Linked DNA regions of Homo sapiens. The protein of the gene in region 1 interacts with the protein of each later gene in a biochemical or structural test. Each region holds a gene or a part of one and is shown on either strand. Other genes may lie near its edges.

Region 1 (3,951 bases):
AGGAACAATGAAGTCCGTACTCAACTGTTCTATGACCTAGAAGCATAGTCGGTGAAGTCTTTGTCTGTGTACATTGACAAATGTGCATCTGATACATGTGCGCTTACATGTGTGTACAGAGGGTGTGCACAGGGGAGGCTGGGCGGCTGCCTCCTCCTGTCCATCAGTGGGCAGAGGTCTTTCCCCTCTCACCATGACTGGGTGTGTGGCAGGATGTTGGCTGGAGAGTTAGCTAAAACCAGCGAGAGAGGGTAAAGTTGAGGAAAATTGATTCTAATTGCATCATGACAATCAGATGAAGTCTATTTCTGCTTCTCAGCATCCGAGATGCTTTATTTGGGCAATTAAAATGTCAGGCCACATACCTGTGAAATGTTAACCCTACAAGGAATAAACAGAAACAGAACGGCCTTTATCCTCTGAAAAGAATATATGTCATATATATATGTCACCAAACCGAACAAGTGATCAGAGTTAATTAAGAGAAGGGTTTGCCATCACCCGGATCTGGCCAACTCTTTCGTTTGGAAAATGCCTACAAGCTCAGTTCGTGGCACCTTCCCACCCTCACTCCCTATCCCTCTGCAAAGAAACCAGGGAACTTTTCTTTGGCATTGTGGGTACTAAGATGCGCCAGGAGTCCCGGGTGGTGCGCGAGCGGCGGAATTCGTGACATCGCCAAGTTGCGAGAGGCAAACTCCCCGATTCCATCCAAAGCCTCTCGCGGAGCCTTTAAGAGACGTTGTGTGTGCGCGCTGCGCTAGTCTCCCCGCCGGGGCGGAAACCTCGGGTGCGGGATGTGGGGAGAGCAGAGGCAGCGCTCGCAGGGCCAGCACGGGCCCATCCCCCTCTCGGCGGCGGCGGCGGCGGCGGCGCGGCCACCCCGTCCCCGCCCCCCCAACCCCCGGTCCCCCGCGTGCCCCGCGCCGCGCCGGCGACGCCGCTCGCGCTAGGACCGGGCTGCGCCCGCGGCCGCCATGGCGGGGCCGCCGCAGTCCGGCCAATGACGGCGAGGGGGCGGCGCGCGCGCGCCTGGCCAGGCCAACCCCGGCTGCTGCCTTATAAGGCGCGCCGTCGCCATGGCAACGTGCGCTAAGTTGCAGCAGTCGTGTCAAAGTTCACTATATAGAGAGCTCAGTGAGCTGATCGCGGAGAAGCCACTTCTGCCAGCCCCGGCGCCTATAAATCGCATTCCCTCCCGCGCCCCCCTTTTTAGCATATTTGATCACTTTGATTCTCTGTTCTTTTCTCTCCGCGGTGTGTGTGTGCGTGCGCGCGTGTGTGTTTTCTTCTTCTCCTCCTCCTCTCCCCGAGTTGCCTCCTTTCTCCGGGTGCCGTACTGCCTTTTTTCCCCTCTTTCATTCTTTCTCTCCGTCTTTTTCTCCCCCCTCTGCGCACGAAGGATGTGCTTCTAGGTGGTGATCTGCCCTCCTCTCTCTCTTTTATCATTTCTCCCCCGCCGCCGGCGAGTTGACTCTTTCCCTATGTGTGTGAGGCGGCGGCGGCAGCAGCAGCAGCAGCGGCTCCGGCGGCGGCAGCAGCGGCAGCAGCGACTTCAGCGGCGGCGGCGGCGCTAGACGCAGCGGCTCCGGGCCCGACCCGGCGGCTTCGGCGGCGGCTCCGGCGGCAGCGGCGGCCCGGGCGGCCCGCAGGGAACGGCGAGCGGCCTCCACCCAGCGACTGCGGGCGGCGGCGGCCGGAGAGAGCGAGGCGCGCGCCGGACGCCCGGGGCAGGCGGCGGCGGCGGCGGCCCAGCGCCAGGACGACGCCGCGCAGCGCCCGACGCGGACCACTTTCATGCTGATTCCCCCGGACCCGGGCAGCGCTCCGGCCACTCCGCGGGCCGCCGGCCTCCGCCCCGGCCTGCCTGGCTCCCTGGGCGCGCCCGCACCCGGCGCCTCCGATCTCCTAGTCCTCCTGATTTCGATGGCTTTCCTGAATGGCTGACTGTGGGCTGCCCTGGACTTGGCCCCCGGACAGTCGCCTCTCCTCCTCCTCTACCTCCTCCTTCACCACCACCTCCTCTTCCTCCTCCTCCTCCTCCTCCTCCTCCGCCAACTCCTCGGCTGCACACCAGCTCTAAGAGCGAGAGTGAACGAGAGAGGGAGGGAGAGAGTGAGAGCGAGCGAGATCTTTGGAGAGATTTTTTTTTTTGCCTCCTACTTCTGTCTTGAAGCCAGACAATCGACTTCAGCTCTCCCTCCCCTCCCTCTTTCTCCACGTTCTGCTCCCACTCGCTCTCCTGTCCCCTTCCCCTCCCCTCCCGGCGGAAAGCCCCCCGAAACCAACAAAGCTGAGCCGAGAGAAACAAACAAAACAAACACACCGGGCCAGACAAGCCATCGACAAAACTTTGCAAAAGCAAAAACAAAAAAGGAAAAACTAACCAACCTCAACCAACCAGCCCCCGAGCCACCCGGGGCGCCCTCCCGCGCCCTCTTGCACCCTCGCACACACAAAAGGCGGCGCGCCGGAGCCCGAGACCCGGGGAGCCGCCGCCGCCCCGCCGCCGCCCGCAGCCAGGGGAGCAGGAAGTCCGGACGCAGCCCCCATAGATATGGCAATGGTAGTCAGCACGTGGCGCGACCCCCAGGACGAGGTGCCCGGCTCACAGGGCAGCCAGGCCTCGCAGGCGCCGCCCGTGCCCGGCCCGCCGCCCGGCGCCCCGCACACGCCACAGACGCCCGGCCAAGGGGGCCCAGCCAGCACGCCAGCCCAGACGGCGGCCGGTGGCCAGGGCGGCCCTGGCGGCCCGGGTAGCGACAAGCAGCAGCAGCAGCAACACATCGAGTGCGTGGTGTGCGGAGACAAGTCGAGCGGCAAGCACTACGGCCAGTTCACGTGCGAGGGCTGCAAGAGCTTCTTCAAGCGCAGCGTGCGGAGGAACCTGAGCTACACGTGCCGCGCCAACCGGAACTGTCCCATCGACCAGCACCATCGCAACCAGTGCCAGTACTGCCGCCTCAAAAAGTGCCTCAAAGTGGGCATGAGACGGGAAGGTATCGGCCTCTCATTTCTCCTTCCCTCGTCCTGGGTCCCGGGGTCCTGGGTACGTTTGGCTAGCCTGCTCTGGGTAAGGACAAGAAGCCCCAAGCTCTTCTCTTCGTATTGCAGCGGAAAAGGGTTTTATACTAGAAGCGAGTTCTGCATTGGAACCCAGACCCCAAATCCGCATGCTTTGGCCGACTGATTTCCTTCTTTACTCTCTCTTTGGGCTGTTTCCATTTCCTTTGCATTGATTGTGAGTTCACTGGAGTCTGCCTTTCTGCAAGGGATGGGGTGTTTGTTGTTGTTGTTTTAAAGCCTAGTTTACTTCTCTCTCTCTGCCCTTGTTTTTCCTGCATGTTCAACATGTCCCTCCCCCTCACCCCTTTCCCCAGCCCCCACCCTCTCAAAAAAAAAAAAAAAAAAACCTGAGATTGTACTTTTGTACAGGAGGTTCAAATTACAAATGGCAATTTTATGCACTTCGCCGTATTAACGCTGCCGCCCGGGCAGCGCTCATGTGACCCTCCGTGGATTAACATCCTGCTAAAAAAAAAAATACCTCTGCTTTCTTTTTTCCTTTCACTTTTTGAAACGAAGAGAGCGCGATAGGAAGTAGGAAAGGGTGGGCGAGGGGCCCTGGGCGGCTGCTTTCGCTCTGCGCGAGTTGGGTCTTTGTGATATAAAATTCGCCGAGCGCCGCGAGCCGTGCTTTGCCAATGGCGCGCTCGGCGCGGGGCGCGGGCTCCGGGTTGGGGCGAGCCAACGCCGGGGTTTCTTTGTGTTTCTGCGAGAGCGACTCTCCCGGTCCGGAGTCAGATAACAGCCTGGGCCCGAGCCTCGCCGGCTTTCCCCGGCCCTTACAGGCCCTGCCCAGGCTCCGCTAGTGCCGGCCGCCTGCTCCCTGCCTCTCCCGGCTTCCTCTCTCTTTAGCCGGCCTCTCTCTCTCCGCCCTCTCCCTCCGTC
Region 2 (3,500 bases), on another chromosome or scaffold:
CTCACTTTGAGATGTGACCACACTATTTATGTTCAGCCAGTTCCAGGGTGGGAACAGGTGATTAAACACAATGAAAGAAATCAAGACTTTGTAATTATTCATGCACGAAAGGTTTACCTCACCTGGGTCACAGCACTTGTTGTGCGCCCATTGAATATCTTAGACATCTTAGAGAGCTTTTCGTCTCAGTTAAATGATTGATTATTAGCGCTATAAAATATATTTTAAATTTGCTTTTGGTTTTGGCTTCTCTAGGCTCTGCTATTATACTTGTTCTTTAAAAAAATAATAACAGAACCTTTAGACAACCAGGGAGTTCAAGCAAATATCTCTTATTTCCCTACATAGATTCACAACTATAGCAGTAAAAGTCTTAACTATATGTAAGGCCTTCCCCCCAGCATTTAGATTCCTCCTCTAAATACAGAGGCACAGAATTTTTGAGCTGGTTAATCTAAGACTGAATAACCTATTTGGGACCTCAGTAAGAAGTGTGGTTTTAATTCTTGCTTGACAGACACTGTGTTTTGTCTTTTAAACGAGCAGCTCGATATGTAAATACGATGTTACATCACGCAAGTGTTACTCCATATTTGGTGATTTAGCAAGGCTTTGGATCTCCGAAGACGACAAATCCCCTTCCGCCTGCTCTTGCTTCATTAATCATGCCTTACACTTCTGTTCATTTTCCTTCCAGTCACAAGACAACACATGGAAATGGTCATTCCCACATCCTGCTGGGGGGTAGGGGAGATAAAATCTTCACCTACATGTCACATAAGGTAAATGTGGTGGATTCAAGAAATACACTCCACAAATGCAGCTTCCCTAGCAGCAGATTTCCCATTTCACTAAAGGGAAAGTATCTGAGTGCTATCACAGAAAGCACTAAAAAAAGAAAGAAAATGCCATGTTTGGTTTTAATGATCAAATTCTAGAGGGGGAGAGGAGAAATAATATGACATTTAATCCCCTCTAGACCACTGACCTATTATGGTTCAACTTTGTGGTCAAACTAGGTCGGAGAGACAAGTTCCAGTGAATCAATTCATGATATGCACTACCTTTCCTAAAACTGAACAAACCTCTTGCCTTTCGGGAGCTGGGTGGTAGGTAGATGGAAGAAAGCGATCCACCAACAGGCATGGCATGTCTGTCATCACAGAATCTGCATTGACTTTTGTCTAACATGCTCAAGCAAAAAATGTTTTGAGGGTCACTATATAGTGTTACTGTTTATCACTTAGAGAAGGGAATTTAAGTCCCACTGCTAGCCTTTAATTCCTTTTCCCTTGAGCTGCCGAGAAACCCACACACCTAGCTGCCTCCCTGCTAAAATTAACCAAAGGAGGGAGGGCTGTTGAATACGTGTGTGTATTTTTCCAAGAAAATTTTTACATTGTGTTATAGCAGAAACAGTGGAGTCTGGACTGGACATTTGTAAGGGTGACATGTGGCTGTGTAAACCACAAACAAAATCAAGATACATCTGTCAAAACCACATCAGAGACAAGAGAGAGCACAGAGAAGCATTTATCATTTAGCTGAGGAGGCAGGCTGCAGGGAGCAGCCGTTCCTGTCAAACCAACCTTTTGAAATTTCCAACATGCCCTTAAACTTTTCGAGTAAGCATGTCTGTGCGCTTCAGCAACTGCCCTCTCTACTCTGGCCTGGCCAGTCGAAAATGGCATCTTAAAGTCAAGGTCATGGTGTCATCCCACCACGGGGCTGTGTTTAATTACAGCCCCATCCGGGCTGACAGCCAATATGGATCCAAGGCTAGCCCTGAAGCTCAGTTAACTCTTTCCACCACCTCCAACTACCCTGCCAGCCCACTCTACTTCAGGGAAGCCTTGAGAACGAGCTGAACCCCTAAGGAGGCCTGGCCAGATGTTCTGAGTCAAACAAGTCATTGGCTGAACTGCAAATGCCTATATGGCCACTTTGCCTCTGACACGTCACCAAGGCTGGAAATGGACAATGGAAGCTGGACTAGGTGTAGTAAAGCTCAATACTTCAAAATGAGAAGGTGGGGATGGGGAAGAAAAGAAATCCAAAATCGACAGATCCAGAGAGAAGGTGTCTGATGTGTGTACCTATCCTGCCTACATCTGATTCAGTGAGGTGGAAAATATTTATTTTTCTGTGTTCTGGACGTAAGCAACAGAAATGATTATTTTAACATTACAGGGCTGTCATGGACAGTCACATAGAGTAATAGAGAAAGCACTTCACAACTCCTTACTGCTTGGCTACAGCACCTCTGAAAATGAAAAGAAAACATGCAAACAGCTTTTCTCCTTGCTTCTCATTTACCTGCTATGTGTTCCTGTTTGGGGCAAATTCCTCTAGATGACGTTGATAAACAATCGTCATCCTCTGGCGTGACCTGGATGCCAACCTCCACGGGATTGGATGCTTTTTTCATCTCGATTGGTGAAGGGGAAGGTGGCTTATCCACAGCTTTTTCTAAGCAGAGGCTGCCATTGCATTGTTTCCGTTTGTGCTCGATAAAAATAAGAATGTCCCCCAATGGGAAGTTCATCTGGCACTGCCCACAGGTGAGGAGGTCATGATCCCCTTCTGGAGCTCCCAACGGGCCGTGGTCTGGTTCATCATCTGTAAGAATGGCTTCAAGAGGCTCGGCTGTGGTTGGAGAAACAAAAGCACAATTATTAGAGTGCCAGAGAGGACAGAAAGGGGAGAAGCACATCTCAACCCCATGCCATCCCACCACATCATGTAAAGTGTTTCTAGGCTTCTCTATATAATACCCAGAAAATGTGAGCATACAAAAAGTACAAGGATGTGAAGGTTATCAACCAGAGAGCAAATTTGTCAATGAGGCAAATCATCACATATGTAAAGAAAACAGTCTTCCTTGCATAACTCCAGAGAACACACACACACACATATACCCATGCACACACCCACAGCAACAAATGTGTCTGGTTTGTAAGTTTAGAAAGAATGCTACTTAAATAGTTAACACAGGGAACATAAAGAAAGCTTAAATAATAACTACAAGAAAAACTGGTTAAAAAAAAAAGTGGATAGAAACCAAATTTGTTTCTTTTTTCCTATACACCAAGTTGTCCATTGTGCCAAAGAATGAAAGGAGAGGTGAATAAACACACACACCCTTTGTGTGTGAATGTATATACTCCTAAGTAAACAGACATGGCTTCATAAATTAGAAAGCTACTATGTCACATGAAAAATGTGCCACATTTACACTGCTGTAATAAGAAAACGACTGCATGCACCTATGAAACGGATCTAAATAATAATCATGTCGCAGCATAATTCACACTGCCAAAAACCTTTCTGCTCTCACTCTCAGCAGTGCCACAAAATCAAAGAAATACCAAATGCACGGGCAGTATTTCTCAGACACATTAGCTAAATGGGATACTTTTGAGTACTTAAGAAAATAAGCCAATTAGTCATTTTTTTTTTATTCTGAGAAATGGAATGCCTATAATATTCTAAACATGTTT

The links. Proteins that work in one complex are often made in the same cells at the same time.
Region 2: the proteins of NR2F2 (region 1) and BCL11A form a complex in vitro, tested with the Homo sapiens proteins (one study listed by BioGRID).

The regions. Positions count from the first base shown.
Region 1 is NC_000015.10:96,329,549-96,333,499, forward strand, and holds the start of NR2F2 (COUP transcription factor 2), read left to right. Parts: upstream 1-1,151; 5' UTR 1,152-2,557; coding exon 2,558-2,999; intron 3,000-3,016; exon of another isoform or gene 3,017-3,073; intron 3,074-3,712; exon of another isoform or gene 3,713-3,759; intron 3,760-3,951. UniProt on the Homo sapiens protein: Ligand-activated transcription factor. Activated by high concentrations of 9-cis-retinoic acid and all-trans-retinoic acid, but not by dexamethasone, cortisol or progesterone (in vitro). Regulation of the apolipoprotein A-I gene transcription.
Region 2 is NC_000002.12:60,543,655-60,547,154, forward strand, and holds part of BCL11A (BCL11 transcription factor A), read right to left. Parts: intron 2,647-3,500; coding exon 2,317-2,646; intron 1-2,316. UniProt on the Homo sapiens protein: Transcription factor. Associated with the BAF SWI/SNF chromatin remodeling complex. Binds to the 5'-TGACCA-3' sequence motif in regulatory regions of target genes, including a distal promoter of the HBG1 hemoglobin subunit gamma-1 gene.